3 linked regions of the Homo sapiens genome follow. The protein of the gene in region 1 purifies or fractionates together with the protein of each later gene. This does not show direct contact. Each region holds a gene or a part of one and is shown in the gene's direction. Other genes may lie near its edges. The genes, in order: MAP3K6, PCDHA4 and LIMD1.

Evidence for each region.
Region 2: the proteins of MAP3K6 (region 1) and PCDHA4 purify together in Homo sapiens (affinity purification with mass spectrometry; 2 studies listed by BioGRID and IntAct, with this or other methods). This does not show direct contact.
Region 3: the proteins of MAP3K6 (region 1) and LIMD1 purify together in Homo sapiens (affinity purification with mass spectrometry; 2 studies listed by BioGRID and IntAct, with this or other methods). This does not show direct contact.

What each region holds. Positions count from the first base shown.
Region 1 is NC_000001.11:27,355,319-27,365,754, reverse strand, and holds part of MAP3K6 (mitogen-activated protein kinase kinase kinase 6), read left to right. Parts: intron 1-842; coding exon 843-982; intron 983-1,070; coding exon 1,071-1,094; intron 1,095-1,360; coding exon 1,361-1,551; intron 1,552-1,669; coding exon 1,670-1,838; intron 1,839-2,206; coding exon 2,207-2,313; intron 2,314-2,733; coding exon 2,734-2,904; intron 2,905-3,001; coding exon 3,002-3,114; intron 3,115-3,504; coding exon 3,505-3,664; intron 3,665-3,887; coding exon 3,888-4,050; intron 4,051-4,127; coding exon 4,128-4,235; intron 4,236-4,359; coding exon 4,360-4,409; intron 4,410-4,502; coding exon 4,503-4,598; intron 4,599-4,746; coding exon 4,747-4,834; intron 4,835-4,916; coding exon 4,917-5,050; intron 5,051-5,386; coding exon 5,387-5,514; intron 5,515-5,760; coding exon 5,761-5,897; intron 5,898-6,195; coding exon of another isoform or gene 6,196-6,232; coding exon 6,233-6,338; intron 6,339-6,888; coding exon 6,889-7,046; intron 7,047-7,143; coding exon 7,144-7,336; intron 7,337-7,435; and 19 more. UniProt on the Homo sapiens protein: Component of a protein kinase signal transduction cascade. Activates the JNK, but not ERK or p38 kinase pathways.
Region 2 is NC_000005.10:140,800,620-140,811,705, forward strand, and holds the start of PCDHA4 (protocadherin alpha-4 isoform 1 precursor), read left to right. Parts: upstream 1-6,448; 5' UTR 6,449-6,568; coding exon 6,569-8,953; coding exon of another isoform or gene 8,954-8,965; exon of another isoform or gene 8,966-11,086. Other genes in the region: PCDHA3 (protocadherin alpha-3 isoform 1 precursor), read left to right, coding at 579-2,972. UniProt on the Homo sapiens protein: Calcium-dependent cell-adhesion protein involved in cells self-recognition and non-self discrimination. Thereby, it is involved in the establishment and maintenance of specific neuronal connections in the brain.
Region 3 is NC_000003.12:45,672,792-45,683,227, forward strand, and holds part of LIMD1 (LIM domain-containing protein 1), read left to right. Parts: coding exon 1-29; intron 30-662; coding exon 663-714; intron 715-1,551; coding exon 1,552-1,620; intron 1,621-4,130; coding exon 4,131-4,268; 3' UTR 4,269-10,436. UniProt on the Homo sapiens protein: Adapter or scaffold protein which participates in the assembly of numerous protein complexes and is involved in several cellular processes such as cell fate determination, cytoskeletal organization, repression of gene transcription, cell-cell adhesion, cell differentiation, proliferation and migration.

The sequences.
Region 1 (10,436 bases):
AGGAGAGGCAAAAAGAGAAGCGAAGGGGCCCGACGGGACTGGATACTGGGTGAGGGAGCTTAGGTTAAGTGGCCTCAGCGGCCCAGAAAGAATGGGCGGGGAAGGGGCGGGGAAGTGGGCGGGAAAGGATGGCTCAGGGGCGGGGCCAGAAGGAGGCTATTCCCCCGCGAGTCACTCCTCCCTCCAGCCAGCCCGGATGCTCGGCCCCCATACTTACTTGCTTATGCTAGAGTCCAGTAGCTGTGCTTCCTGGATGTCCATGAAATCGTAGCCTAAAATGAAGGCTGACCCGACCACTCGGACACAAAGATACAATTATCGACAGACACAAATCGCATACATGTTGACTCATGCAGGCCCTAGCAGACGCTGTCACACACACAGATACAGTCAGACATAGTAAGCTATACATGTCACAGATATACACATACATACATTTAGGCACAGCGTTGTCTATGCACACTGATGGTAGCCCCTTTCAAGAGCCTGTGCTGAAGACCAAAGGGAGGGGACTTCTATGTTTGCGCAACTCCCACCTCCTAAATGGCCCGTAACAGACTCAACTGGTCCACAGCCTCCCTTCCCCCATGCCAGGTGCTCACAGGCTCTGAACCGTGGCCTGAGGGTCCCAACCCAGTGAGCCCAACTCCTCTCCTGCAACACTACAGAGATCAGTTCTGTGAAAGTGCCAGGGGAACCCTAAAAAGGGCCGACTGAAGCCCAAAGCAGAACCAGACCCTACTGGAGTCCCACAGCAAGGCAGGTCAAGCCAGGATGGACCCCGGCTCCTTCCCCATCAAGCTGGGCTTCAGGGATCAGCGCCACCCCCTCTGTGCCTGCAGATGTGGTGGTGCTGGAGGTGAGCAGCTCGCTGGTACAGCCCTCCCTGTTCTACCACCTTGGTGTGCGTGAGAGCTTCAGCATGACCAACAATGTGCTCCTCTGCTCCCAGGCCGACCTCCCTGACCTGCAGGCCCTGCGGGTAGGTGGCCTGGGGCTGGTGGAGGCAGGCACAGGGCTGGGGTAAGGCCTACACAGAACACCAGTATCTGACTGTCTGCCTCCTGCAGGAGGATGTTTTCCAGAAGAACTCGGTGAGCAGAATCCACCTCTCACTCAAAAGTGCCCTTTGACTTCCGCTATGACCTCTGACCTCCACTAATCCCCCTGGCCTCCTCAGTCACCTAACCCCCCACTGACATCCCAAGTATTCCTCTGTTTCCTGTTGCCTCCTCTCATGACGGGTGCCCCTTTCCTGCGATTCCAATTCCCACTGATGCTGACCTTTGATGCTCTCACTCCCCTTGTCTAGCCCTGTGCTGACCTCTGACCTCACTGATTCCTGCCTCCCTCCCACCAGGATTGCGTTGGCAGCTACACACTGATCCCCTATGTGGTGACGGCCACTGGTCGGGTGCTGTGTGGTGATGCAGGCCTTCTGCGGGGCCTGGCTGATGGGCTGGTACAGGCTGGAGTGGGGACCGAGGCCCTGCTCACTCCCCTGGTGGGCCGGCTTGCCCGCCTGCTGGAGGCCACACCCACAGACTCTTGGTAATGAAGGCCCCCAGGGAGGGTGCTCCAGGAGGGGGCTGGTGAGGGTATGGTGGGCTGGGGCTGAGGTACAGGCCCCACCATTCTCTCTCCCTGCCTCCCCTACCCTGGGCATCAGTGGCTATTTCCGGGAGACCATTCGGCGGGACATCCGGCAGGCGCGGGAGCGGTTCAGTGGGCCACAGCTGCGGCAGGAGCTGGCTCGCCTGCAGCGGAGACTGGACAGCGTGGAGCTGCTGAGCCCCGACATCATCATGAACTTGCTGCTCTCCTACCGCGATGTGCAGGTGCGTGGTGTTCAGAGAGGCAGTAGGGCAGCTGGCATTTGAGGTCAGACAAACCCAAGTTCAGTTCCTGGCTGGGCCACTTGCTCACTGGTGGCTTTGGGCAAATTATCCAATGTCTCTGAGTGTTGGCCTCCTTATTTGTTAGAGAGGATGAGCATGTCGCTGCCTCCTGGGGCAGTTGTGGGGTTGGGAACGCCCAGCATGGGGCATACAGTAGGTTCTCCCTGTGAGGTGTGTCCGCTGGGCCTGAGGGAGGCGTGCAGAAGATGGTGGCTGGGTGGGATGTCAGGAGTGGGACAGGACCCTGGCTCAAGGTTCCTTGGGGCCTGGAGGCCCATGATGCCAGTGCTTGCCGTTCCCTGATGCAGGACTACTCGGCCATCATTGAGCTGGTGGAGACGCTGCAGGCCTTGCCCACCTGTGATGTGGCCGAGCAGCATAATGTCTGCTTCCACTACACTTTTGCCCTCAACCGGTGAGTGGCAGAGCAAGGGTTAGGTCATAGCCACATAAAGGTTTCCGAAACCTAGGTCTCTGCGTGCAAAGCCATTGCTGTCTGGGATCACTGCTGTTCGGGGAATTTGCTGACCGGGGTCACTGATGTCAATAGGTCCCTGTTGTTCTGAGTTACTGCTGCCTGGGTCGGGGTGGGGGAGGTGGTGCTGCCTGTGGTATGGTCACCGCTGTCCAAGATCACTGCTCCTAAGAGTCATCGCATCTAGGAATCACTTCCATCTGAGGTCACTAGAGAGGTCAGTGCTGGCCAGGGTCATTATCATTTTGAGGTCATTATTGTCAGGCCCCTGGAAGGGTCCCTGCTGGTTCAGTGTCTAGAGGTCCCTGGACAGAGTAGGCCAGGGCCATCAGGGAGGGCCTGAGCCCATCTTTTCCCTAGGAGGAACAGGCCTGGGGACCGGGCGAAGGCCCTGTCTGTGCTGCTGCCGCTGGTACAGCTTGAGGGCTCTGTGGCGCCCGATCTGTACTGCATGTGTGGCCGTATCTACAAGGACATGTTCTTCAGCTCGGGTTTCCAGGATGCTGGGCACCGGGAGCAGGCCTATCACTGGTAAAGAGCACAGTGAGTGGCCGGTGGGCTAAGCTGTGAGATGAGGGGTGGTGCTGTGGGCATCAGTCCAGCCCTGTGCCCCCTACCCCCACCCCAGGTATCGCAAGGCTTTTGACGTAGAGCCCAGCCTTCACTCAGGCATCAATGCAGCTGTGCTCCTCATTGCTGCCGGGCAGCACTTTGAGGATTCCAAAGAGCTCCGGCTAATAGGTGAGCACAGATCCTGGCTCTTGTCTCGTCACCCACAGGGGTTCCGAGGGGCCTGGGAAGAGGGCAGGGAGAGAGCACACTGGGCAAGAGCTAGGATGAGCTCATCCATTTTGGACTGTCCTGCCCATACCCACACCTGGGTCCTCATACCTGTTCTGGGCCCTCAGGAGCCCTCAAACCCACAAATGTTCCCAAACTCACATCTGCGTGTCCATTACATCCTGAATTCCACATATACCTGTGCCTGAGCTCCTGTTCCCACCCGAGATCTTGCCATACTCAATGCCATACTCATATCTATGTTCATGTCCACACTCGGGCCCACAGAAATGGTGGGCCTCACTCACCCCTGCACCCACACTCACTGGAGCCCATGCCTCTCTCCCCCAGGCATGAAGCTGGGCTGCCTGCTGGCCCGCAAAGGCTGCGTGGAGAAGATGCAGTATTACTGGGATGTGGGTTTCTACCTGGGAGCCCAGATCCTCGCCAATGACCCCACCCAGGTGGTGCTGGCTGCAGAGCAGCTGTATAAGCTCAATGCCCCCATATGGTAGGTGGCCCCCTCTGCATTCTTGGCCTGACCTGGGCTGTCAGCTCCTGCACCTATGTCCATTGGCATGCTAGACTGAACCCTGAGCCAATGACCTGGCTGCTTTTAGACCAGTGCCCGTGGCACCCCATGCCAACGTTCTAGCTATATCCAGGCCAGTTTCCTCTCCCTGGCAGTGCTGGTTGGTGCCTGGGCTGAACTGAGGATGTGGCTTTGCATGCAGGTACCTGGTGTCCGTGATGGAGACCTTCCTGCTCTACCAGCACTTCAGGCCCACGCCAGAGCCCCCTGGAGGGCCACCACGCCGTGCCCACTTCTGGCTCCACTTCTTGCTACAGTCCTGCCAACCATTCAAGACAGCCTGTGCCCAGGGCGACCAGTGCTTGGTGAGGCCTGTAGGGGTGGTGGACCCGGGAAAGGGGTAAGCCCCTTCTGACTGACCCCACTCCCCAACTGCCTGCAGGTGCTGGTCCTGGAGATGAACAAGGTGCTGCTGCCTGCAAAGCTCGAGGTTCGGGGTACTGACCCAGTAAGCACAGTGACCCTGAGCCTGCTGGAGCCTGAGACCCAGGTGAAGTCGCTGCTGAGGCCCCTCACTCACCTTTGCTAGGACCTTTTCTGTGGAGCCTTTCTCCCATCCTCAGACCCCTCTCCTGTCACCAGCACTCCCCATCACACCCCATTTCTTCTTGCAGGACATTCCCTCCAGCTGGACCTTCCCAGTCGCCTCCATATGCGGAGTCAGGTGATAGGCGGGACCTGGGGTGACTGGAAAGACGGGAGGTGAGGGTCGCTGCCACCCAGCCTGACGCTTACTGGGTTCTTCATCCCTTCCCAGCGCCTCAAAGCGCGACGAGCGCTGCTGCTTCCTCTATGCACTCCCCCCGGCTCAGGACGTCCAGCTGTGCTTCCCCAGCGTAGGGCACTGCCAGTGGTGCGCAGCCTTTCATGGTCGGGGTACTCTGAGGGCCAGGATGCCCGGGGGGGAGTGGGGGAAAGAAAGGGACGACGTCCGTTGGATGCTCCGGCTTAGGTGGGGACCAAGATGCCCCTCCCGCGGGTCTGACCTCCCCCACCTTCAGGTTCTGCGGCCTGATCCAGGCCTGGGTGACGAACCCGGATTCCACGGCGCCCGCGGAGGAGGCGGAGGGCGCGGGGGAGATGTTGGAGGTGAGGACGCGGGACTGGGAGCTCGCGGAGGGCGAGGGGCCGCGGGCCCTGCTGAACTCCCATCTCACCCCGCGCCCGGCAGTTTGATTATGAGTACACGGAGACGGGCGAGCGGCTGGTGCTGGGCAAGGGCACGTATGGGGTGGTGTACGCGGGCCGCGATCGCCACACGAGGGTGCGCATCGCCATCAAGGAGATCCCGGAGCGGGACAGCAGGTGCGGTGCGTGGCAGCGCGGGTGGGGCTGAGGGCTCGCGAGGGCCGAGTGAGCCGGGCCACGAGCGGAGCGGCTCCTGTGGGCGGGGCCTAGTGGGCGGGCTCGTAGGACCTGAGAGTTCGAGCCCTGTGGACTGGGCCCGTGGGCGGAACAGCCAGGACCGTGCGGGCGGGATTGAGGTCTGGAGGGTCCTGTGGGCAGGGTAGTAAGGGTGGGGAAGGTCGGAGAGGGCTTGTGGGCGGGGCGGGTCCTTGGGGCGGGGCCAGGCTGGCGTGGGATGGGCGGGGCTTCTCTGCCCACCTCGGTCCCTTTCCTCTCTCCCTTACCTCCCCTCAGGTTCTCTCAGCCCCTGCATGAAGAGATCGCTCTTCACAGACGCCTGCGCCACAAGAACATAGTGCGCTATCTGGGCTCAGCTAGCCAGGGCGGCTACCTTAAGATCTTCATGGAGGAAGTGCCTGGAGGTACCTGCCCTGTGTGGGATGGGAATGAAACCGAGGTGTGAAGCATGGGACCGAGGCAGGCAGGGGTAGAGAGCCCTAGGGGGAAATGCACCCTAGTGCGTGTGGGTGGTGTAGCCTAGAATTAGCTGAGGAGTGGCGCTGGGTGATGGAGTTGGGCTACAACATGGGTGTGTCTGGGCCTTGAGCAGAGAGATGTGGGCTGGAGCCAGTGGGTGGGAAGAATGAACTTGGACTGTCCCCACCCAGGCAGCCTGTCCTCCTTGCTGCGGTCGGTGTGGGGACCCCTGAAGGACAACGAGAGCACCATCAGTTTCTACACCCGCCAGATCCTGCAGGGACTTGGCTACTTGCACGACAACCACATCGTGCACAGGGACATAAAAGTAAGCCCTGGGGCTGGCCCGCCCTCATCTGCTGAGGGTGGCGGGGAAGGAAACATGGTCCCAGACGCAGGCTGGCAGTTTAGATTAAGTGAGCAGACCTGTTGCAAAGGGTAGGGAATTCATCAGGGAGGCTCCTTAGAGAAGGAGGGGAAAGGTTCAGCTCTGAAGCCAAACCAATTGTCAGCTCCCAGAGGGGCATATAAGTGGGATGGCAAGGGGAGAGTGTTGACAGAGGCAGGACCAGGCTGGGATCTCCAGGAGATGGGATCCCAGAAAGAGGGTCTACTTCTGCTGGCAGGGGCCCAGACCAGTGTCCACTAATGGCTGTCAATCAGGGGGACAATGTGCTGATCAACACCTTCAGTGGGCTGCTCAAGATTTCTGACTTCGGCACCTCCAAGCGGCTGGCAGGCATCACACCTTGCACTGAGACCTTCACAGGTAACAAGGTGTGGGGGTGGTGAGTGGGGATGCTGACCTGGGGCAGAAGATCTCTTGGAACTTTCCAGGGAAGGGGGTTTCTCCTAGGCATGGAGTTAGAGTCCTAATGGGGAATGAAACCCAGGGTGAGTGATTGGGCCAGGGCTGAGGTGGTGGCATCTGGAACTGGAGCTTGGAGAAGTGATGAAATTGACTTTAGCACTTGAGGAGTGTTGATGCAGGCCAAGGTGGGAGTTGGAGGAAAAAGCAGGTGATGGAGTTCAGGGGGACGAGGCAATCCAGGATGTGTGCTGGAGCACTACTGTGGGTGATGGAGTCTGTGAATGTGGTGGAGCCCAGGATGAATGACGGAAGCCTTGGCAGGCGATGGAGCCCAGGGTGGTGATGGAACTCAGGATAGATGTTTGATGACCAGGATAGGTGTTGAGGTATATTTTGGATGATAGGTTCAGTATGGGTGCAGTCGGCCTGAGGATGACGGCATTCCCCTCCCTGCTCCAACCCCATGATGAAGCCTAGATGGGCATTGGTGCTCCTGTTTCTGTCCTAGGAACTCTGCAGTATATGGCCCCAGAAATCATTGACCAGGGCCCACGCGGGTATGGGAAAGCAGCTGACATCTGGTCACTGGGCTGCACTGTCATTGAGATGGCCACAGGTCGCCCCCCCTTCCACGAGCTCGGGAGCCCACAGGCTGCCATGTTTCAGGTGAGACCTCTTTGGGCCTGGCCCATGGAAGTGGCATAGGGCCAGCCTGGGCCTTGGACACCTCTGAATGTCACCCTTGTTCACCCTCCCCCCACAGGTGGGTATGTACAAGGTCCATCCGCCAATGCCCAGCTCTCTGTCGGCCGAGGCCCAAGCCTTTCTCCTCCGAACTTTTGAGCCAGACCCCCGCCTCCGAGCCAGCGCCCAGACACTGCTGGGGGACCCCTTCCTGCAGCCTGGGAAAAGGAGCCGCAGCCCCAGCTCCCCACGACATGCTCCACGGCCCTCAGGTGCTTGCGGGTGGCGGGATGGGCACAGTGGAGGGCAGAGGAGTTGTGGAGCTGTGAGGGTGGAGGAGAGCCCAGCTGATGGCTCTGTCCCTCCCTCAGATGCCCCTTCTGCCAGTCCCACTCCTTCAGCCAACTCAACCACCCAGTCTCAGACATTCCCGTGCCCTCAGGCACCCTCTCAGCACCCACCCAGCCCCCCGAAGCGCTGCCTCAGTTATGGGGGCACCAGCCAGCTCCGGTGAGACCAAGGCTCCTGGGATGGGTTCCTTTTGCCTGGTTTTGCCTTTTTCTCCTCTCCTACAAAAGCCCTCCCTGGGGACCTGGGCACCTTGACCACTTGTGAATGTGGCATTTGGTGCCTCCCCATGCCCTGTTCTGGCAACTCTAACTTGGACTTGTTGTGTCCTCTCAGTGCGGGGTTTATCTATGTTCATGCCTGTGAGGTAGGCATAAAAGTAGGAGAGCCAGGATTCAAACCCGGCAACAGAGGTGACTGGCCGGTTGCTGCCCGTCCTCAATCAGCAGCTCGCCCTTGTGCCCAGGGTGCCCGAGGAGCCTGCGGCCGAGGAGCCTGCGTCTCCGGAGGAGAGTTCGGGGCTGAGCCTGCTGCACCAGGAGAGCAAGCGTCGGGCCATGCTGGCCGCAGTATTGGAGCAGGAGCTGCCAGCGCTGGCGGAGAATCTGCACCAGGAGCAGAAGCAAGAGCAGGTGGGCGGCCCACTCTAGCGCCCCCTGGTGGTCGCAAAGGGTCAGGACACCTGTTGATGTCCCCGCCCCCTACCTCCGCGGCAGCGTCTCTTTTGGCTGGAGCACTCGCTGACAACCCCTCTCTTCCTTCTCAGGGGGCCCGTCTGGGCAGAAACCATGTGGAAGAGCTGCTGCGCTGCCTCGGGGCACACATCCACACTCCCAACCGCCGGCAGCTCGCCCAGGAGCTGCGGGCGCTGCAAGGACGGCTGAGGGCCCAGGGCCTTGGGCCTGCGCTTCTGCACAGACCGCTGTTTGCCTTCCCGGATGCGGTGAGGGCGCCTTCTGGTAGTTAGAGCTGCCCAACAACAGGTAGTGAGTTCCCCGTGCCTGGTGAGGTGCCAGGACTTGACGTTCCCAGATTCCCTGTCTCCTCTGTGAAGATCAGGCCTGCAGCAAAAAACCGTCTGCCCAGTCCTAGCTTCCCAGGCCTTCCCTGGACCTCAAGCCCGCCCACCCCACTCGCCTCCCGCCGAAGACTTTCTAGGCCTTTCCAACTCAAGCCCTGCCTCTAGTTGAGGCTCAGCTGTCTCAGCGGCGCCTCCCTCCCCCTGCAGGTGAAGCAGATCCTCCGCAAGCGCCAGATCCGTCCACACTGGATGTTCGTTCTGGACTCACTGCTCAGCCGTGCTGTGCGGGCAGCCCTGGGTGTGCTAGGACCGGGTAGGAGGGGAATGCCACGGGCCTCCTGCCAGCGAGGGTGTGGTGCTTGCTGGGCGCGGTGAACATCGAATGGGGCCGGTGGGGGCCAGGCGGGACAGGGGCAGGCAGGCGCCGGTGGGGGCGTGACTAAATGGACATCTCCCATACCGGCACCGCCTGGGGCCTGCCCAGAGCCGGGCACCCTACCCCCGCACTTTGGGGTCTGGGGTTCCCAAACGGGCGTTGTAGCCTTGCCTGAGTTCACCGCACTGGGCTGCAGAGGTGGAGAAGGAGGCGGTCTCACCGAGGTCAGAGGAGCTGAGTAATGAAGGGGACTCCCAGCAGAGCCCAGGCCAGCAGAGCCCGCTTCCGGTGGAGCCCGAGCAGGGCCCCGCTCCTCTGATGGTGCAGCTGAGCCTCTTGAGGGCAGAGACTGATCGGTAAAGCCCCTTGGAATCGCTCATAGCCTCTGCCGGGCTTCAACCCACTCACCACTCACCGCTCCATTCTACTCTTCTGCGCCCCACAGGCTGCGCGAAATCCTGGCGGGGAAGGAACGGGAGTACCAGGCCCTGGTGCAGCGGGCTCTACAGCGGCTGAATGAGGAAGCCCGGACCTATGTCCTGGCCCCAGAGCCTCCAAGTGAGTGGGCCTTGGCTGGAGAACATTATTGGTGGGTTCAAGGCAGCTTCTAGCACAAGGCACCCTTGGGCTCATCACCTGACTTGGGCTCATCACCTGAGCGGGCCTTGGCGGGAGAACATTATTGGTGGGTTCGAGGCAGCTTCTAGCACAAGGCACCCTTGGGCTCATCACCTGACTTGGGCTCATCACCTGAGTGGGCCTTGGCTGGAGAACACTATTGGTGGGTTCGAGGCAGCTTCTAGCAGGAGGCACTCTTGGGCTCATCACCTGACTGCTTCTTGACAGCTGCTCTTTCAACGGACCAGGGCCTGGTGCAGTGGCTACAGGAACTGAATGTGGATTCAGGCACCATCCAAATGGTGAGTCGGGGAGTGCTTGGCTATCCCTGACCTCACCAGCCAAAGCCTCCATCTCTGTCCATCTTCCTGCTCTTCTACTGTGCCCTCTGATGCAGAGAATCTCACTACCAGAAGAACACTTAGTATTCTCGTCCCATTGTATGGATGAGAAAACTGAGGCCCAGAAGGGTGTGATCTGCCTCATTATTTTGGCAACAGAGCAGAGCTAGTACCTGGGTCTCGACACATCTTTCTGTAATTTCTTATTTCCCTCTTTCTGCGGGTCTTTGACCACATCCAGCTGTTGAACCATAGCTTCACCCTCCACACTCTGCTCACCTATGCCACTCGAGATGACCTCATCTACACCCGCATCAGGTACATCCTGGGCCCCCCAAGTGTGAACCATGCATATGGCCTCATCCTGGCCAACTGCAGGCCTGCCTAGGTTCCTTCCTGGAAACCAAAGGGGCACCTGGGTCCCCTAGGGACAGAGGGGGCACTGGGCAGACAGTGTGTGCAAGATAGAGTCCAGGGCCACCTTCTGGCTGAGCCACACTGAGTCCATTACCCCCAGGGGAGGGATGGTATGCCGCATCTGGAGGGCCATCTTGGCACAGCGAGCAGGATCCACACCAGTCACCTCTGGACCCTGAGAGCTGAATGAGGGCATCATAGGCCAGACAGGCCCAAGGATGGATGAATGGAGAGGACAAAGGCAGCTTCTG
Region 2 (11,086 bases), on another chromosome or scaffold:
GTACCAAGAGATAATATCGTTTTACTTAACCTCTATGTGTTTATAAAAAGCGAATAATATTAAAACTTATTTCAGAGGATTGTGATAATTTAACGGGATAATTCCATTAAGACAAATAGAAAAGTGGCTGTCACATGGGAAATATTTCCAATAGATGTCCACTGTTAAAACAGGAATCACAATATTTTAGTGTATGTCATGAATTAGCACAATTGATAGTGAATTAGTATAAAAGTTCTAAGGAAATATTTAGATAAAATATAAGGACTTTGAGGAGTGACCGAAGGATATTACAATTGAAACTAGAAATTTTGGGAAAGTTCAAACGACATACAAGGAAAAGAAGATACGTTTACATATTTAATACTTACACGTTTAGCCACATGATGTCGCTGTCCACCACAAGGTCTTTCTCCACAAAAGAAATAACAGCGTGCATTACGTATTCAGATACTGCTTTGCTTCATCCTCTCTAAAATTTAACACCGAGGAGTTTAAGAAATGAAGATAAGGAACTCGAATTATTTTTAAACTTTGGATCAATGTAAAGGCAATCTAATATTTGGAAAATACTTGCAATGTTGTTCTCCTGGCGAGAAGATCCTGGAGCCCAGTGCCTGCTGCTTTCTCTTCTGCTCCTCGCAGCCTCGGAGGTGGGGAGCGGCCAGCTCCACTACTCCGTCTCTGAGGAGGCCAAGCATGGCACCTTCGTGGGCCGCATCGCGCAGGACCTGGGGCTGGAGCTGGCGGAGCTGGTGCCGCGCCTGTTCCGGGTGGCGTCCAAAAGACACGGGGACCTTCTGGAGGTAAATCTGCAGAATGGCATTTTGTTTGTGAATTCTCGGATAGACCGCGAGGAACTGTGCGGGCGGAGCGCGGAGTGCAGCATCCACCTGGAGGTGATCGTGGACAGGCCGCTGCAGGTTTTCCATGTGGAGGTGGAAGTGAAGGACATTAATGACAACGCGCCAGTTTTTCCAATGGCTGTAAAGAATCTGTTTATTTCCGAATCCCGACAGCCTGGCTCTCGGTTTTCGCTAGAGGGCGCATCAGATGCAGATATCGGAACAAATTCGTTGTTGACTTACAGTCTTGATTCCACTGAATATTTTACCTTGGACGTTAAAAGAAATGATGAGGAAATTAAATCCCTTGGACTCGTGTTGAAAAAAAATTTAAATCGAGAGGACACTCCTAAGCATTATTTACTAATAACAGCAATTGATGGTGGGAAACCAGAGCTCACTGGCACGACTCAACTAAAGATCACTGTTTTAGATGTAAACGACAACGCCCCAGCGTTTGAGAGGACGATCTATAAAGTCAGATTACTCGAAAATGCACCAAATGGTACCCTAGTGGTGACCGTTAACGCCACCGATTTGGATGAAGGAGTAAATAAGGATATCGCGTATTCTTTCAATACGGACATGTCAGCAGATATTCTGTCAAAATTCCATTTAGATCCAGTCAATGGACAAATCAGTGTAAAGGGTAACATAGATTTCGAGGAAAGTAAGTCATATGAAATCCAGGTAGAAGCCACGGATAAAGGAAATCCCCCAATGTCAGATCACTGCACAGTTCTACTCGAAATTGTGGACATCAATGATAATGTACCTGAGTTAGTTATTCAATCACTATCTTTACCTGTATTAGAAGACTCTCCACTTAGCACAGTCATCGCTCTGATCAGCGTGTCCGACCGCGACTCAGGAGTCAATGGACAGGTCACCTGCTCGCTGACGCCCCACGTCCCCTTCAAGCTGGTGTCCACCTTCAAGAATTACTACTCATTGGTGCTGGACAGCCCTCTGGACCGCGAGAGCGTGTCGGCCTATGAGCTGGTGGTGACTGCTCGGGACGGGGGCTCGCCTTCACTGTGGGCCACGGCCAGCGTGTCCGTGGAGGTGGCCGACGTGAACGACAATGCGCCGGCATTCTCGCAGTCCGAGTACACGGTGTTCGTGAAGGAGAACAACCCGCCGGGCTGCCACATCTTCACGGTGTCTGCGCGGGACGCGGACGCGCAGGAGAACGCCCTGGTGTCCTACTCGCTGGTGGAACGGCGGGTGGGGGAGCGCGCGCTGTCGAGCTACGTGTCGGTACACGCGGAGAGCGGCAAGGTGTACGCGCTGCAGCCGCTGGACCACGAGGAGCTAGAGCTGCTGCAGTTCCAGGTGAGTGCGCGCGATGCGGGCGTGCCGCCTCTGGGCAGCAACGTGACGCTGCAGGTGTTCGTGCTGGACGAGAACGACAACGCGCCGGCACTGCTGATGCCTCGGGTGGGTGGCATCGGTGGCGCAGTGAGCGAGCTGGTGCCGCGGTCAGTGGGTGCGGGCCACGTGGTAGCGAAGGTGCGCGCAGTGGATGCAGACTCAGGCTACAACGCGTGGCTTTCGTATGAGCTGCAGCCTGGGACCGGCGGTGCGCGCATCCCGTTTCGCGTGGGGCTGTACACGGGAGAGATCAGCACGACCCGTGCCCTGGACGAGGTGGACGCCCCGCGCCATCGCCTACTGGTGCTGGTGAAGGACCACGGTGAACCCTCATTGACCGCCACGGCCACTGTGCTGGTGTCGCTGGTGGAGAGTGGCCAGGCACCCAAGGCCTCGTCCCAGGCGTCCGCTGGCGCCACGGGCCCGGAAGCTGCACTGGTGGATGTCAACGTGTACTTGATCGTCGCCATCTGCGCGGTGTCCAGTCTGTTGGTGCTCACACTGCTGCTATATACTGCTCTGCGGTGCTCCGCGCCGCCAACCGAAGGCGACTGTGGGCCGGGCAAGCCCACGCTGGTGTGCTCCAGCGCGGTGGGGAGCTGGTCATACTCGCAGCAGAGGCAGCAGAGGGTGTGCTCTGGAGAGGGGTTGCCCAAGACCGACCTCATGGCTTTTAGCCCTAGCCTTCCTCCTTGTCCAATTAGCCGGGATAGAGAGGAGAAACAGGATGTGGACGTTGATCTCTCAGCCAAAGTGAGTAATTTTTATTTATTCTTTCCAAAATGTCTTTGTTTTTCATTCCTCAATGTTTCCACTCCTCTGGAAATACATTAATAGTTAAGTATGAATTATGTGATTCATAATTAGACTTTTCCAGTTTTGTGGTTTTGTGGTTAAAACGGTAAGATTTTTGTTGCTAATTTTTGAACCAAATCAGCAGTAAGTTATGATATCCACACTTGTAATTTTGTTTTGTTATTAGGTGCAGTAGTAGAATTATTTTATTGCTAAATGCCTGGGTATAAGACAAATATTTTTTCTTAGATGAATTGCATTATTTAGAGAATCTGACTTCGACTTGTTTTATACTTATCCCTATACAATGCTTCTTCAATATCTTTTGCCACTTTTCATTTGGACTTCCTACTACCTGTTAGTACAAATGTTACTTGCTCATTTTATGAGTTCACCTAATGCTTATAACTCCCTATTGATTATGCTTTTCCACCTTCAGTTTCAAAAATTAGATCATTACACCTGTTGTCTTTTATGGAACCTCTTTTATTCTCTTATTCACTTGTTTGGAGTCTCAATCCTTATTTTTTACTTGAATATGATTCATTTTAGGCCTTGTGCTCTAATTTGGCAATACCGTTTATTGTTTCTTGATTTCCCAGTTGGGAAAAAAATCGAGAATAACAATTGCATTTAGAATTGCATCTTTGTTCATCTTTAGTTTATCACTACTTTATTTAATACTACTTTAATAATACTACTGTATTATATGTTAAAATTTATTACTAATAACTAAAATATCAATATGAAGTGAAAATTTAATAGTTGTATAGTATATTTATATATTCATTTTAAAAGAATGTTTTAAATCTTGTTAAAAATAATTTTCAATCTGAACAATATCTTGAAAATAATTATGGTATCTAATTTTAAAACTATCCCTACTAGCAAAACTTTTTATTCATTAGTGTCTTTTGCATACCATACTAAGGATGCTAATATGAAATAAGTTTGATAAGCCAATGTTATAATGTTATTACTGGTTAACTTCTCTGAATAGCATCCTGCCTATTAATGTGTGCCATGCAATAAGTAGAAAACTCCAAATAACCAGAACCAAATGAAATTGAAGGTAGACTTTTTTCTAATCACTACCCCTACATATTTGGTTATCTCCTCTAGCAATTAGTTGGACTCCCATTTAAGTTTCCCTACCACTGGAGAGAAATAGTAACCAACTGAAACCTGGTTAATACTCATTGACAGTGTGGGAGGTCTAACACGTAAAATAGATATTTTTCTTGACTCCTCTCCTTCCCCTCACTTCCATTTTCTTTATTTCCTTTTTTGGCACTATCCTTTGTTGCTCCCTTGTCCATGAAGTAGTAGCCATAGTGTGTCCATCTCAGGTCAGTATTTTAAAAATTTAGTTCTGTTATCAGCTTCTTGAATATAATAGAGTCAGCCAAAGTACTTGTCTTCCCAGATATGGAACTTCAATCTTCAAATCCAGCTTGCCTCTTGAAACTATTGTCTAACAAGACTCTTGGCAAAGACATTTTGAAGACTTTGGAATTTTCACTTCACAGATGTACTGATGCTATGCCAAATAAATATTGAATAGCTACCAAATAAACATTGTTTTCTATTCTGCTGCATTCCCCATCTGTACATTAAAATACCTGGTAAATGAAAATATTACAAATGAAATGGGTGAAAATGGAATTCTTCCTCCTTTTTTCCAATGTGCTTGATGTCAATGATCATTTTGTAAAAATATAGTTTGGGTCCCCACATAGTGAAAGTACTCTGGTTTCTGTTTGATTCAGAAATTTGGTGGGTTTTTTGTTGTTGTTTTGGTTTTTGTGTGTGTGTGTTTGTGTGAGTGTAGTTCTTCAATAGAGAGGGAGCGTAAAGCTATTTTCACTAGATTGATTTTTTGTTTAGACAAACAGGATGAAAATAACTTTATGGATATAGGAGGCAAGGAAAGTTTTTAAATGGCTACCATTATGTCTTTATATATTAAATTTCTTTATGTAAGAAAATGTATTGTGGTTTATTTATTGGGAAGTCTTCATTCCCCATTAATACCCAGGATGATTCAAAGATCATGATTACCAAGAATTAGAATAAAAATTAAGCTAAAACCCAAGTTTTCAACATTGAACTTGAAATACATCTTAATTGGGGAAATGTCTAGAGACTTTTTTTGTATCTTTAGAAAATCATAGAGGCTATTGAAACACCACATTTTCCCAACTAGATATGCGATCACCTTAAATTAATGCATTTTATTAGGCAATGGAAGGAAGCAAACATTTTCTGCAGGGTAAATATTTAGGAAATATTAGGTAAGTCCCTCTGAGCTATTAAACAATTAAGATACAACTATTCCCTTTAAAATATATATTCCAAAAAAGGACACACATACTCAAATGCTTATAAGAGATAAATTAATGTAATAAATGGCCCACGCGATTCCACCCTGGTGCTGCAGTTTGTAAAAGAAGAAAAAATACCTGTTCAATTGGTTTGATCATGACATTCTTCATGGGTCAGGGAAGTTTTAAGTGGTTATAAAATGGGGTAAATTGGCTTTAGAAGAGTTTAGAAATGATGTGGATTACTTATAGACAGGACAAAATGAACATGCTTGTTTATTAAAAAAAGCTATTGGAAGCAGGAAATATTCAGTTTGGCTAAAATATATAAGCACTATAGGAGAAAATAGAAGCTTAGGCACATTACATACTGGAGAACAAGCAAGTACTTATAAACTGTAAGAGTCAAAATGAGAATACCAGCGTTTCTCATGGGAGCAAATGAGTTCCAATGAATAAAATTATTTGGAATGCTTTTCCATGCAAGCTATTTGCTATAACTTCCTGCTTCCTTGCACTTTCAGCCCTGACATGACTCAAGGAAGACATCTAATTAAATGCTGATGGTCTTTGATCCTTTTATAAAACATCTGCAAATTTCCCTGTCAATAGCTTGTTCTTGGCACCAGAAGTTCCCTAGAGACCAGTCCCCTCAAGTCAACAACACCAGAAATACTAGGGTGAAGAGGGTGTTATCATTAATAAAAAAAAACCCTGGAATTCTTGGGAACACAGGAATCTGTAATGAATTTTTCTAATCAACAGTTTACAGTTACATGTTTACAAAGTGTATAGTTAGGTCTCTGTAATACTTAAAACCTGTGTTGAAAAAATTATTTCTACTGAAGTAAAAGTTGCCCCTATGGCGAAACTAAGGACCACACTCAATCAATCAGTGGTACAATGTGTACCACAGTAGTACAAAATGTATTCCTATTCTCCGAAACGACTGAAATAATAAATAAAACCAAGTAGTTTACAGTAGAGTGTGTGGGGGTTTCCACAATTGCTACTTACGGTTTGGAGCCACATGATGTCGCTCTTTACCACAAAATACATGAGAGAAGGAGGAAGAAGGGAAAATTCCTTCTATTCTTACTGGAAGGAACCATATACACTCTTTGGAGTCTGAAATATGGAGGATGCAGCTGCACTTGACTGACCGATTAAAAGATTTCCCTTGACTTTGAGAAACGATATTTAATCAGAACAAAATACTGTGCACTAAAGATGGAGTTTTCCTGGGGAAGCGGCCAGGAATCCCGGCGTCTGCTGCTCTTACTTCTTCTCCTCGCAGCCTGGGAGGCAGGGAACGGTCAGCTCCACTACTCGGTCTCCGAGGAGGCCAAACACGGCACCTTCGTGGGCCGCATCGCGCAGGACCTGGGACTGGAGCTGGCGGAGCTGGTGCCGCGCCTGTTCCGGGTGGCGTCCAAGGGCCGCGGAGGCCTTCTGGAGGTAAATCTGCAGAATGGCATTTTGTTTGTGAATTCTCGGATCGACCGGGAGGAGCTGTGCCGGCGGAGCGCGGAGTGCAGCATCCACCTGGAGGTGATCGTAGACAGGCCGCTGCAGGTTTTCCATGTGGACGTGGAGGTGAGGGACATTAACGATAACCCGCCGGTGTTCCCAGCAACACAAAAGAACCTGTCCATCGCGGAATCCAGGCCGCTTGACTCTCGGTTTCCACTAGAGGGCGCCTCGGATGCAGATATCGGGGAGAACGCCCTGCTCACTTACAGACTGAGCCCAAATGAATACTTTTCTCTGGAAAAACCACCTGATGACGAGCTGGTAAAAGGTCTTGGGCTTATATTACGGAAATCTTTAGACAGAGAAGAAGCTCCGGAGATTTTTTTAGTGCTCACAGCCACTGATGGAGGCAAACCCGAGTTGACTGGCACCGTTCAGTTACTCATCACAGTACTGGATGCCAATGACAATGCCCCAGCTTTTGACAGAACCATTTATAAGGTGAGATTACTAGAAAATGTTCCTAATGGAACATTGGTAATTAAACTTAACGCCTCAGATTTAGACGAAGGATTGAATGGGGACATTGTTTATTCATTCTCAAATGATATTTCGCCAAATGTGAAATCCAAGTTTCACATAGATCCAATTACTGGACAAATTATTGTAAAGGGATATATTGACTTTGAAGAAAGCAAATCCTATGAAATTATTGTAGAGGGCATTGATAAGGGACAGCTCCCACTTTCTGGCCATTGTAGAGTTATTGTGGAAGTAGAAGACAACAACGATAATGTCCCAGATTTGGAATTCAAGTCTTTATCACTTCCAATTAGAGAGGACGCTCCACTGGGTACAGTCATCGCCCTGATCAGCGTGTCCGACAAAGACATGGGTGTCAATGGGCTGGTCACCTGCTCCTTGACGTCCCACGTCCCCTTCAAGCTGGTGTCCACCTTCAAGAATTACTACTCGTTGGTGCTGGACAGTGCCCTGGACCGCGAGAGCGTGTCAGCCTATGAGCTGGTGGTGACCGCGCGAGACGGGGGCTCGCCTTCGCTGTGGGCCACGGCCAGTGTTTCTGTGGAGGTGGCTGATGTGAACGACAACGCTCCGGCGTTCGCGCAGCCCGAGTACACAGTGTTCGTGAAGGAGAACAACCCGCCGGGCTGCCACATCTTCACTGTGTCTGCGTGGGACGCGGACGCGCAGGAGAACGCGCTGGTGTCCTACTCGCTGGTAGAGCGGCGGGTAGGGGAGCGCGCGCTGTCGAGCTACGTTTCGGTGCATGCGGAGAGCGGCAAGGTGTACGCGCTGCAGCCGCTGGACCACGAGGAGCTAGAGCTGCTGCAGTTTCAGGTGACCGCTCGCGATGCCGGCGTGCCACCTCTGGGCAGCAACGTGACGCTGCAGGTGTTCGTGCTGGACGAAAACGACAACGCGCCAGCACTGCTAGCGCCTCGGGCGGGTGGCACTGGTGGCGCAGTGAGCGAGCTGGTGCCATGGTCGGTGGGTGTGGGCCACGTGGTGGCAAAGGTGCGCGCGGTGGATGCTGACTCGGGCTACAACGCGTGGCTTTCGTACGAGCTGCAGCCGGGGACTGGTGGCGCGCGCATCCCGTTCCGCGTGGGGCTGTACACTGGCGAGATCAGCACAACGCGTGCCCTGGACGAAACGGACGCTCCGCGCCACCGCCTACTGGTACTGGTGAAGGACCACGGCGAGCCCGCGCTGACGGCCACGGCCACTGTGCTGGTGTCACTTGTGGAGAGTGGACAGGCGCCAAAGGCCTCCTCACGGGCGTTGGTGGGCGCTGTGGGTCCCGATGCTGCGCTGGTGGATGTCAACGTATACCTGATCATTGCCATCTGCGCGGTGTCCAGCCTTTTGGTGCTCACGCTGCTGCTGTACACCGCGCTGCGGTGCTCTGCGCTGCCCACCGAGGGCGCGTGCGCTCCGGGCAAGCCCACGCTGGTGTGCTCCAGTGCGGTGGGGAGCTGGTCATACTCGCAGCAGAGGAGGCCGAGGGTGTGCTCTGGTGAGGGCCCACCCAAGACCGACCTCATGGCCTTCAGCCCCAGTTTACCTGACTCTAGGGACAGAGAAGATCAGCTGCAGACAACTGAGGAATCCTTTGCAAAGGTTAGTGTATAACATCCTTTTGTTTAATTTTCGTATTGTTTTTCTCTATCAACTTCTTCGTAAATTTATTTCTAAGAGTCAAATTTCCCTGGGTTAAAATTTTACCTCTTTTTACATATCCATTTTAACTAAAGTCTTTTGGAATTATAGGACATCAGAGCAATATATATTGCCTTCCTTCATTTTATGCTGCATTATTCAATGCATATTAACAGAACTGTAATTTCTAGTAAATTTTCACTATATTCACCCTCTTTGTTTTTGGTAATAATCAACATTTTAGAAAACATTTTACTATTATTTAACCTATTACATATAAACAAATGTGCACAGGCTGAAATAATAAAGCTCCATAAATTGTATGAAAGTGAAAAGCTCCGTTGCCTCCATCGCTGAAGCCCCTCGCATGCACCTGCCAAATCACTTCCCTTATTTTTCCTCCAGTGTAACCGCACATTTGCCTTTTATAACTGTTTGTTCGGGGCCTGTTTTGGGAACGTTATCTAATTGGACTTGCACAACATGTATTGTCTGTGCATTTGTGTGTTATTTGTATTTATCACTCATTGTTTATGAAATTATCCATGTTGTTATATGTAGTTGTAGTTTATTTATTTCTGTTTCTAGTACTATTTCATAAATATACTATACCTTATTTATTCTACTGTTCAGGAATTTGCATTGTGCCTCAATGTCTATTTCAAATAATGCCATCATAAATATATTGTACATTTCTTTGATGCCCATGTACACAGATTTCTCTCAGGTTTTTGCCTAAGAGTTGTGTTTGTGGGTCACAGAATATGTGTGTATCTTTGTCTTTTGTAGCTAACACCAACCAATTTTCCAAGATGTTTTTACCTGTTTACATTCCTAGTAGTGCATAAGGCTTTCTGCTGGGCCACATCATCTCTACATTTGTCAGGTTATTTTCATGTTAGCCATTTTACTGGGTGACTTTTGTAATCTCATTTTGAAATTATTTTATATTTAAATGAAGTTGAGTACCTTTCTATTTTATTTTGGCAATTTTTATACCTTATTTTGTGCAATAGCTGCTCAAATCTCCTATTTCTCTAGTCTGTTGTTTTTCTTTTCTTTTTTCTCTTCTTTTTGCTTCCATAGAACTTTATTTATTTCCTTATCTTGTTTTTCTTATTACTTAAACAAATCTTGTATTCTGAACATAACTCCTTTTTTTAGTAGTTTTCAACCTCATGGCTAGTTTTTAATTCTTTTTTGTCTTTTGGTGAATAGAAAGTCATAATTTTGATTAAACTCAATTTATCAATTTTTGCTTCTGATCCTATTTCACAAAGATAATTTTCTGTGGTATCTTTTATTTCATTGTTTACATTACATCTACAATCCATTTGGAATATACATATTTTTATCATTGTTGTGAGGTAGGGGTCAAGATTTATTTTTATTTCTTCTTATTATTTTTATTATACTTTAAGTTCTAGGATACATGTGCACAACGTGCAGGTTTGTTACATAGGTATACATGTGTGCCATGTTCGTTTGCTGCACCCATCAACTCATCATTTACATTAGGTATTTCTCCTAATGCTATCCCTCCCCCAGTCCCCCACACCTCAACAGGCCCCAGTGTGTGATGTTCCCCACCCTGTGTCCAAGTGCTCTCGTTGTTCAATTCCCACCTATGAGTGAGAACATGCAGTGTTTGGTTTTCTGTGCTTGTGATAGTTTGCTCAGAATGACGGTTTCCAGCTTCATCCATGTCTCTACAAAGGACATGAACTCACCCTTTTTTACGGCTGCATAGTCTTCCATGGTGTATATGTGTCACATTTTCTTAATCCGGTCTATCATTGATGGACATTTGGGTTGGTTCCAAGTCTTTGCTATTGTGAATAGTGTCGCAATAAACATACATGTGCATGTGTCTTTATAGTAGCATGATTTATAATCCTTTAGATATATACCCAGTAATGGGTCAAATGGTATTTCTAGTTCCAGATCCTTGAGGAATCGCCACACTGTCTTCCACAATGGTTGAACTAGTTTACACTCCCACCAACGGTGTAAAAGCGTTACTATTTCTCCACATCCTCTCCAGCATGTGTTGTTTCCTGACTTTTTAATGATTGCCATTCTAACTGGTGTGAG
Region 3 (10,436 bases), on another chromosome or scaffold:
AAGATCTACTGTGTCCGAGATTACCACAAGTAAGAAGGGATGGGAGCAGACAGGACCCATTCGTGTAGGCCAAGCTGATCTCAGCAGAGTGAGTGGTGGAAACCGACAAAACTGTGTTTGCCAGCCGCCCTTAGATCACAGTCCAGCAAAGGCTTAATGGTTTTGAGGGGTACAGCAGGGACCTTGGGAGGTTGGTCGATGCCAGTGTTGACAGGAATGGGTTAAAGAATCATGTTTAGTGAAAAAAAAAAAACAACAGAGCACAGAAAAACTAATAATCATATTTGTAGCTAGGCCTCGGGAGGAATCCACCAAGCCCTGTGGCTTCAGCGTTACCTAACTTCACAAGGCCCCTATGCAGTGCTGGTTCCTACCACTCTTGGTTTGCCTGGGCCTGTGCTAGGCACCATGAGAGGTGTAAACAAATCAGTTAGTGCTGTCCCCAGAAGAGTGAGAGGCAGCCAGTGTCCTCATTGCAGCTGGGGAGCAAATACTAAGGCATATTCCACAAAGTGAGCCAGGTACCAGTCATTCTATGAGGGAGGAGAGCAAGGGGCAGGAGGCGGCATGGAGGAAGGCTCCATGTGGATTCCAAGTGCAAGTCTGACTCTGGAATTTGCTCCCAGAAGCAACATTTATTGCTGCTTTGTTTCTCCCCACAGGGTGCTGGCCCCCAAGTGTGCAGCCTGTGGGCTTCCCATCCTTCCACCTGAGGTAAGATGCCCTTCCAGACATGCTCCCAGGGGCTTCTAAGACATGAATATCTCCCTGGGCTCATTTACAAGATCCATGTCCTGTCCTTACAGCTTTTAAGGTATCCTTTTAAAAATCTCAACTCTGGCCTGGTGCAGTGGCTCACGCCTGTAATCCCACCCCTTTTAGGAGGCCCAGGCAGGAAAATTGCTTGAGGCCTGGAGTTTAAGAACAGCCTGGGCAACATAGCAAGACCTCATCTCTACAAAAAATTGTTAAAAATTGGCCAAGTGTGGTGGCATGTGCCTGTAGTCCTAGCTGCTTGAGCCCAAGAGTTTGAGGCTGCAGCGAGCTATGATGGTGCTACTGCATTCCAGCAGGTGACAGCAAGACCTTGTCTCCAAAAAAAAAAAACCAAAAAAAACCCCACTTCACCTTTGAGATAAGTCGTGTCTTCACCCTTCCTTGTTGACTGGCTTCCCCAACCCAGTACCCTTCTTGTGCTGATTTGTCCCCATAACCAGGTCAAACTCCCTTACTTGATACTAATTCTTAGATTAGCAGATGAGGAGAAAGGCTTGTCTTTTCTTCATTTTTTAAAATAAGTGTCCATGTAGGTCTTTCTTTCAGTGTTAACTCTGACATTCTAGAAGGAAGGACTCCTATCCCTCCTACTTCCCCTCTCATCAGCTTAAATGTATTCTTCTTCCAGTAAGTACTCCTGATTTACCTTCTCCTCCCAAGGCCACCTACTTGTTACCCCCAAAACCCTCTTCCCTCCCCACCCCACGGTACATCAAGCCCGACAGCCCCCCTAACAGGCCTCTCCTATGTGTTCTTGCTTTTCTCTGGTCCCAGGGCTCAGATGAGACCATCCGTGTCGTGTCCATGGACAGAGACTACCACGTGGAGTGTTACCACTGCGAGGTAGACCCCTCCCCACCCAGCCCCCAAAGCCCATTGTAGACATCCAAGAGAAAAGCATCCTGCGTTGACTGGGGCAAGAGGCAGTCAACAAGATTCTGGCAAGGGTCAGCCCTCTAGAGCTTCTGTAGGAAATGGAATGAAGGCTGGTTCTTGGGGGAGGTAGGAGAAGATGGAAATGCTCAAGGTATAAAGGTCTTTCTTCTGCATATTCAGAACTATCAAGTCCTGCAACTGTTGGAGCTGCTCTCCCTGAAGCTGCAGAGCTAGGAGGGTCGTGGAGAGCATGGGTTTCAGGTCCTATCTGCGGGCCACATTGTCAGGCAGGTGTGCGATTTGGGGAAGGGACTCCCTCCCCTCCAGCTTGCAGGCTGTTCTATCTGCCTGAAGCTCCTTTCTCAGCTGAGCCCTGGAAATCATGAAGCCCCTCTTGGAAACAGGCATGTCAGCTGGTGGTGTGAAGGCGGGTGGGGTCCGCCTGCCCCTTCCTGCCCTTTGTCCCAACCCAAGATGAAGGAGCACTAGTACCTGATGACTGTCAGGAAAGCTAGAGGTTGCCCCTCACCAACCCTTGTGAAGGGTGACCATGGAATTTCAGCCACAATTAAGTGAATTCACCCATGGAAGGAGATTAGATTCATTTGGTGACCCTGTGGGTAGAGAATGGGGGTGTCCCTCATATAGACTTGTCCCACTGCCAACACTGAAGAAATGGGTGGGAATCATTGCTGCTGGGACCCCAGGTGCCCCAGGTCACTGCAGGAGAAAAAGGTGAGGACATTTGCTCAACAGGCCTCTCCACATTTTCTAGACCAGTGCTATCCAAAAGAAATATAAGGGGCCGGGCGCGATAGCTCACGCCTGTAATCTCAGCACTTTGGGAGGCCAAGGCCGGCAGATTACTTGAGGTCAGGAGTTCGAGACCAGCCTGGCCAACATGGCAAAAACCCATCTCTACTAAAAATACAAAGATTAGTGGGCGTGGTGGCACACGCCTGTAGTCCCAGCTACTCGGGAAGCTGAGACAGGAGAATTGCTTGAACCTGGGAAGTGGAGGTTGCAGTGACCTGAGATCATGCTACTGCACTCCAGCCTGGGCAACAGAGCAAGACTCCGTCTCAAAAAAAGAAAGAACTATGAGAGCCACAAATTAAAGTCATGTATCATTTTAAGTTTTCTGGTAGTCACAATTAAAACGTTAAAGAATTATGAGAGCCACAAATTAAAGTCATGTATCATTTTAAGTTTTCTGGTAGTCACAATTAAAACGTTAAAAGAAACCGGTGAGATTAATTATTTTATTCGGTTCAAAATATCCAGCCAGGCATGGGCCCATGCCTGTAATCTTAGCACTTTGGAAGGCCGAGGCAGGGGGATCACATGAGCCCAGGAGTTTGAGAACAGCATGGACAACACAGTGAGACCCTGTCTCTACTAAAAATACAAAAATTAGCCAGGCATGCTGTGCCTATAGTCTCAGCTACTTAGGAAGCTAGGATCGTGTCACTGCACTCTACTCTGGGTGACACAGCAAGACCCTGTCTTAAAAAAGTAAAAAATCCTGCTGGGCGTGGTGGCTCATGCCTGTAATCCCAGCACTTTGGGAGGGCAGATCACTTGAGGTCAGGAGTTCAAGACCAGCCTGGCCAACATGGTGAAACCCTGTCTCTACTAAAAATACAAAAATTAGCCAGATGTGTTGGCGCGTGCATAATCCCAGCTACTTGGGAGGCTGAGACAGGAGAATTCCTTGAACGGGGGAGGTGGATGTTGCAGTGAGCTGAGATCGCACCACTGCACTCCAGCCTAGAAAACAGAGGGAGACTGTCTCAAAAAAGAAAAAAAAATCCAAATGTTATCTTTTGAACATGTAATCAATATAAAAAAGTTACCCATGAGATTTTTTTTGTAACTCCACAATTTATTTTATTTCTTCTAAAAAAAAAAAAGGGATACGTGTGAAGATTTATTACATAGATATATGTTGTACGTGTGCCAGGGTGGTTTGCTGCACCTATTGTCCCATCCTCTAAGTTCCCTCCCCTCACCCCCACCTCCCAACAGGCCCTGGTGTGTGTTGTTCCCCTCCCTGTGTCCATGTGTTCTCATTGTTCAACTCCCACTTATGAGTGAGAACATGTGGTGTTTAGTTTTCTGTTCCTTTGTTAGTTTGCTGAGAATGATGGCTTCCAGCTTCATCCATGTCCCTGCAAAGGACATGATCTCATTCCTTTTTCCCATGAGATATTTTTACATCCTCTTTTTGTCCTAAGTCTTCGGAATCTGCATTTACACTGACAGCACATTTTAAGTGGTTCACAGCAAGTGCCTTGTGGCAGTGTCTCCTGTGTTGGACAGGCCTCCACGGGGCAGGAGCTGTGTTTCTGCACTGGCATTTCCTGCCTATACAGAAACACACAGCACCCTCTGCTGATTTTGGGGACTGTGGCCTTCAGGTCAGTCTTGCAGTCTGTTTTGTTTTGCTTCCCCTGGACATGTCTGCCTCCCCACAGGACTGTGGTCTGGAGCTCAATGATGAAGATGGCCACCGCTGTTATCCGCTGGAGGACCACCTGTTCTGTCACTCCTGCCACGTGAAGAGGCTGGAGAAGAGACCCTCATCTACAGCCCTTCACCAGCACCACTTCTAGCCAGAGCCACTTGCAGACATCACGGCAGGGGATGAGGAGCCGGGGTTGCTGCTGCTGCTTCCGGTGGCCCCTGGGGTGGAAGTGGGGTAGGGGAAGAGGAGGGGCAGGAGGGAGAGTTCCTGTGAGCATGTGGGGGGTGCCTTTCCTTTAACCAGGGAGGTGAACACTACCTGCCTCCTGCGTGTATTTTCCAAGTGCTTTTCTCTGTTGCCACATTTTCCTCAGGTTACTCAGGAAAATGCTCCAGCATGTGCGAGCACATGACCTGAGGTTGCATCATAGCACCAAAGGAATCCTCCTGTCCCCTCTGGGAACATTTCATGCTTCAGAGGGAGAGGTTTTTATTGAGCTTGTTTCACAATATCCCCTTGAAGGGACAGCTCAGCTGCCAATACATTCAACCCTTTCTCTTCCTTCAGGAAAATACCTATACCCAAATGTTCCCTCCCCCGACATATATCATGGCATGATTTAAGGCTTCTTTTCACCTGAGAGCTTCAGTTCTTCTGCAGAATGGCTGCAAATTTAATTGCATTAAGGCAAGAAGGAAGCTCTAATGTGTGCTTTGTATCCTAAGATAAATTTGCTTAGAAAACCAGAGTCAAGATTTGAAATAGGTGAGGCAGGGTTTCCTCCTTAGACACTGACAGCATTCTCTGTACCCCTTCAAATCCTTACTCTCCTAAAGGCAGCTGAGTCCGCGACAGAAATTTGCCCTATGTGAGTAAAACATACTTTGGGAGAAGAACTTGGTGCAGGCACCAGGATTTTTTTTTTTGCCCACGTGTTTGCGCTGTTTTTCTCTGGAGTTCTCAAGAGTTGGTGACTTGGAAGGCCGCTTCTGCAAGGCAAGTCTCAGGAACCCATGCAGGTACATCGCTTGCACCTGTTTTTAGCTTATTTAATGACGGGCTTTTGGGAAGAGCTGCCCGCATACTGAGAGACAGCTTCTTATAAACAAGGAGAGTTTTTGTGTGTGCGAGATCTCTAAGCCAGCGTGGGAGGGAGCGCCTCAGGATAAGTTATTATATTCATTTCGTTGGTTTCTCTCCTGCCCAATTCTTGGCACAGGCATTATGTTTGAAGAAACCAGGATAAGGTACACTGCTTTTGTCTGTTTAATTTTTTTAGTTGTTTCCCTTCACTTTCAGTCTTCCACACACAAAAAATACCTCACAGAGCTTCACCAAATCACAGATTCAGGAGGAATTTGGCTTTCACACTGGACTCAGATACCTTCTTCAGTGTGTTGGAAATCACTGGCTTCACACAGGCCCAACTCCAGCTGGTCAGGGCAGAGTGATCGTAACTAAAGGTCAGTGGGGAATAGATCCGATTCAGTGCTTTTGCCTTATGCATTTCAGCATCCTGGCTCCCCAGGGTGGCAGGAGCTGAGGGAGGGCCACACACTGGCAAGATTTCAAGACCACTCTCTGCACTGAAGAGGTAAAATTTGCACTGCAAGTCACATCCCTGAGGCCAGAGGTCAGTACCCTTTGGTATTTCGATTAGAAGAAGCTGCAAAAGAAAGGCAGCCCATTTTACCATTGCCAGCCAGGCCGGGGACACAGGAGCCGGTGTGTGCACTCTGCCTCCTCACCTTGCACCCAGAGCAAGAGGACTGGGTGCTGGGCTGCAGAGGCCGGTCAGTGGAGCCCCTAGCACGTGTGAACTCAGGCTTTTCATTGGGCCCGGCTCCACTTCTAGGCCATGTTTTGACTCATTTGGTAACCATTGCCTGTAAGCAGCACAGAATTGGTGCCATGGATTATCTTTTCCATGTTGATGGAATTCATTCTGTTGGAATCCTTTGGCCAGATGTCACTTCAGCCAGGGTGTGCATCATCATTGGTTCTTTTTCACAGGCTGAGCCTCCTGAAAACCCATGAACGCTGGGGCTGGGGAAGTGAACCCTGAGGTGGGGACCCTCTCTTCCCATCAAATCATCCAGCTCAGTGTGGGGCGTGGCAGGGGGGTAAATGAAGCCAGCCAATGTGTTAACCTGTCTCTGTCAACCTAAGAATGTTGGCCTTACTGACACACCTTTGCTCCATGTTCAAGACCAGAAGTAGCTGGGATTTGTTTGCAAATTGGGTAATTAGTTTAAAAATCTGTGATTACATTTTTAAATGAAATTTTCAAAGTGGCCTAGATTGAGGTGATTCAGATAGGTTTGCGAATATACCATTTTATATTGTTGAGAAAGAACAAAAAGGGAATTTCCAGATGTCCTAGAAATCCTAGCAACAGATTTCTCTGGTTGTCAGTTTCCCTGGAGAAGGCGCCAGATAGGAATCTCCAATCAGTTGTTTTTCTCTTCGCTTCAGGCCCTTACACAAAAGCCATGAAGAGATGTTCACCTACCCGGTATTTTAAATGTTCTGTAAATTATTAGCCAAATAGAACTGTAATGGGGTTGTATTTATGGGCGCCTAGAAAGAAAACACAAGGACTTGGTAGGCCAGGAAGAAAAGATTTTAAAATTTAGAATGAATAGCCCTTCTGGGTTTTCTTTTTGACAATTCTTGGACTTGAGGTAAAACAAGGAGGATTGTGGCCGGATTTCAGATCCCAAAGCCAGCCTCCATCTTAGGCCTTTGCCTCATTGTGCCTTTTAGGTTTTCTTACCCACCGTCTCCTGTTTTGTCTTTTTTTTCTTTTCTCCTACCCCTATCTTGGGACATTCAGAAACTGCCTGGGTGGTTTGAGAAGAGACAACCCAGTTTGATCTGCAATACAAGGATCCATTCGTAATCTCTCTCTCACTGATGTTATTCCCCCATCTGCCGTCTTGGTTCATCTCACCACAGAAGGGCATTTAGTCCTACCCAGCCATCGGCTGCGTATGACAGCAGGATGGCACTTCCCATTTCTCTGTGGTTAGTGCTCGAGTGAAAACCTCTTTCAGCTGAGTCCTCTGAGGTTCTGCTGTTGAGTCCTGGGTGGCTGATGGAATGATTGAGGAGGTCTGGTCACCCTCAAGCGCCGTCATCGCCTTGTTTCCATGGGCTTCTGTCACACAAAATGAAGAACAGAAATGTTAGGACTTAAGAGAATGTTTGGAATTCACACCTCTTTGCAGTCCTTTCAAGGCTGCTGCTCTGTGCTGTGTCCCATGCATGTGAAAGTAGAGCTGTGATGGCTGCTGGGACGCTTGCAAAGATCATGTGTGAGAATTGAGCACAAGACCACAAATTATTACTGCTTGATGCGCTTGTTAAAACTCTATCTGCCAGGAAACCAAATTTTCTTTTCTTTTCTTTTTTTTTTTGAGACAGGGCCTCACTCTGTTGCCCAGGCTGGAGTGCAGTGGCGCGATCTCAGCTCACTGCAGCCTCCACCTACTGGGCTCAAGTGATCCTCCCACCTCAGCCTCCCGAGTAGCCGGGACCACAGGCGTGTATGACTGGCTACGCCTGGCTAATTTTTGTATTTTTAATAGAGACGAGTTTCACCATGTTGCCCAGGATGGTCTGGAACTCCTGGGCTCAAGTGATCTGCCCACTTCCGCCTCCCAAAGTGTTGGGATTATGGCCATTAGCCACTGTACCTGGCACAATTTTTTTTTGTACCCTCCTTTATGCCAAGAATCAGTCCTAATTTCTTTACTATGTGAAGTAACTTTTAAAGGTAATAGAAAAGGCCAGGCACAGTGGCTCATGCCTGTAATCCCAGGCGCCGTGGCTCACGCCTGTAATCCCAGCACTTTGAGAGGCTGAGGCGGGTGGATCACTTAAGGTCAGGAGTTAGAGACCAGCCTGACCAACATGGTGAAACACTGTCTCTACTAAAAATACAAAATTAGCTGGGTTTGGTGGCGCACGCCTGTAATCCCAGCTACCTGAGAGGTTGAGGCAGGAGAATCGCTTGAACCTGGGAGGCAGAGGTTGCAGTGAGCCGAGATGGTGCCATTGCACTCCGACCTGGGCAACAGAGCGAAACACTGTCTCAAAAAAAAAAAAAAAAGTAACAGAAAAAAGAGTGAAATATATTAGCTATCTTTTATTCTGAGCCAAAACTTGACAGATGTGGGAAATCTTCATATAGTGTATGAAAATTTCATTGTACAGGGAAATTATTTTCCTCTGTGTCTTTTCTTTTACTATAAAGTGATTCAGAATTTTACTGTTACTATAAAATTATGCAAAGTATTGTGACAAAACTGCATCAATTTGTTGACTATTAAAGTGCTCCTTGAACATTATATTTCCTGGGTCTTTTCTGTGTGTGGAGTCAGCAAACTGTTTTTTGCTACCTGGACTTTGTCTTCTTTTACAGCTCTGGATTCTTAAAAGTACCACATAGGTAGCAAACCTGTGAAGGGTATGAGATTTTACCCTACTTGCAGGCTAATAAAGTGAGCACACCACATGGGTTCATGGATCCTGGCAGAAGTTATGAGACTCATAGGTCAGAGACAAAGGACAGTTTATTATAGCAATAGCAGTGGCCAGATTATCAGCATTTACACTGGTTCCCTGAGCCCCAGGCCCCAAGAAGAGGGCCAGGTGAGACCTGCACACGCAGTGGGCTGCATTACAAGAGGAACCCCCATGCTTAGGGGACCCTGGTATTTGATAATGGGCAGTAAGCCTGCCTGACTTTTGCTCCAGAGACAGACACTATCTCTGTCATCCAAGACTGTTCACTAGATAAACATCCTTGAAAATATAAGTCTGGAACCTGGCAATTGGTGTCTATTCTTACCAGATGTATAAAAATGTGAGAGGCCTTGGAGAATCATATCCCAAGAATCAGCAGTTTCTTTTACTGGACCTTTAAGATTGAGACTTGTAAGGTCCTGATGCAGTGACTTGTAAGGTCACTTTGTCTCTCTTGTGAATGTTACTGTTTTTTCTCTTCTGAGGTTATGACCAAAGAATCCTCAAGGCGAGTGATCCTTCAGGTTTGAGACAGCCACATGCAGGAAGACAGGACTTGTAGAGTGTTGGGGCCAAGTGTGTGGTTAGAATCCTTGGGGTGGGGAAAGAGTTTGTTCTAGACTCCAGTGTAGTCCTTGTGGCTACCAGGTCTGACGTGCCAAGGACACGGGAAAGCTGGGAGTGAGGATACTCATAGTCATAGCACCTTACACCAGAATAAAAGTTTTTTTTTTCTTTTTAAGTGATGAGAGAATGGCTAGTCTGATTTTGCCAACATGGGCTGCTATTTGCTTAAGACCTTGATGGTATAAGGAGTGAAGATGCAATCAGGGTAAAAGGCGGTCTGGAGTTGTGGTGTGCTGGCAAACCAGCCCTCTGGGGCAAAAAATTAAAAAGCCTTGATATGGAGTGTTTGCTGATACCTATGATGTAAATATTCCCGCCATGGCCACTTTCCAGCTACCAGCAAGGCATCCTGGCACCAGGGATTGGGAGGAGATGGCATAGTCCTAAGAGTCAGCCTTGGGCATTGGGCCATGTGGGACTGGGCAGTGGGGTATCTGGTCTGGTTCTAAGTGCTGTGATGAAGCAGTAGCAGCTGTAATAGCTGGCATTTCCCGTGTGCTCATCACATAGCAGATGTTATTCCAAGGACTGTATGTTCTTTATCATCCCTCATTTGATAGACAAGACAACTGAGACACAAAAGGGTGAAATAAACAGTAAGTACTCCATCCCAGGCCATCTCATCCAGAGGGTGCTGTCTTGACCACTCTACTACTCTGGTTGATGGGAGGCAGTAAATTGTCCATCAGTATACTTCTTCATCAAAGCTACATAGTCAAAAAGCCACAGGAGGCTGTGAGGAGAAGCTCACTGCTGCTCTGTTGAAGTCTGTATTGGTTTCCTATGGCCACTCTTAACAAATTACCACAACCTCAGTGGCTTAAAACAACACAAATATATCATTCTGTCATCCTGGACACGAGCCAAAGGTTGTCGGCAGAAGCGAATTGCTTCCAGAGGTGCTATAGGGTGCTGCCCATTCCTTGCCCCTTTTCCGCTTCTAGAGGCTGCCCATTTTCCTTGGCTTGTGGCTGCATCATTCTGGCTGCTTCTATTGTCACACCTCCTCTCTGACCCTCCCTGCCTCCTTGTAAGGACACTTGGGATTACGCCCATCCAGATAATCTAGAATAATCTCCCATTTTGTGATTCTTAATAACATCTGCAAAGCCTCTTTTACCTTGCAGAATAAGATATTCACAGGTTCTGGTGAGGAGGA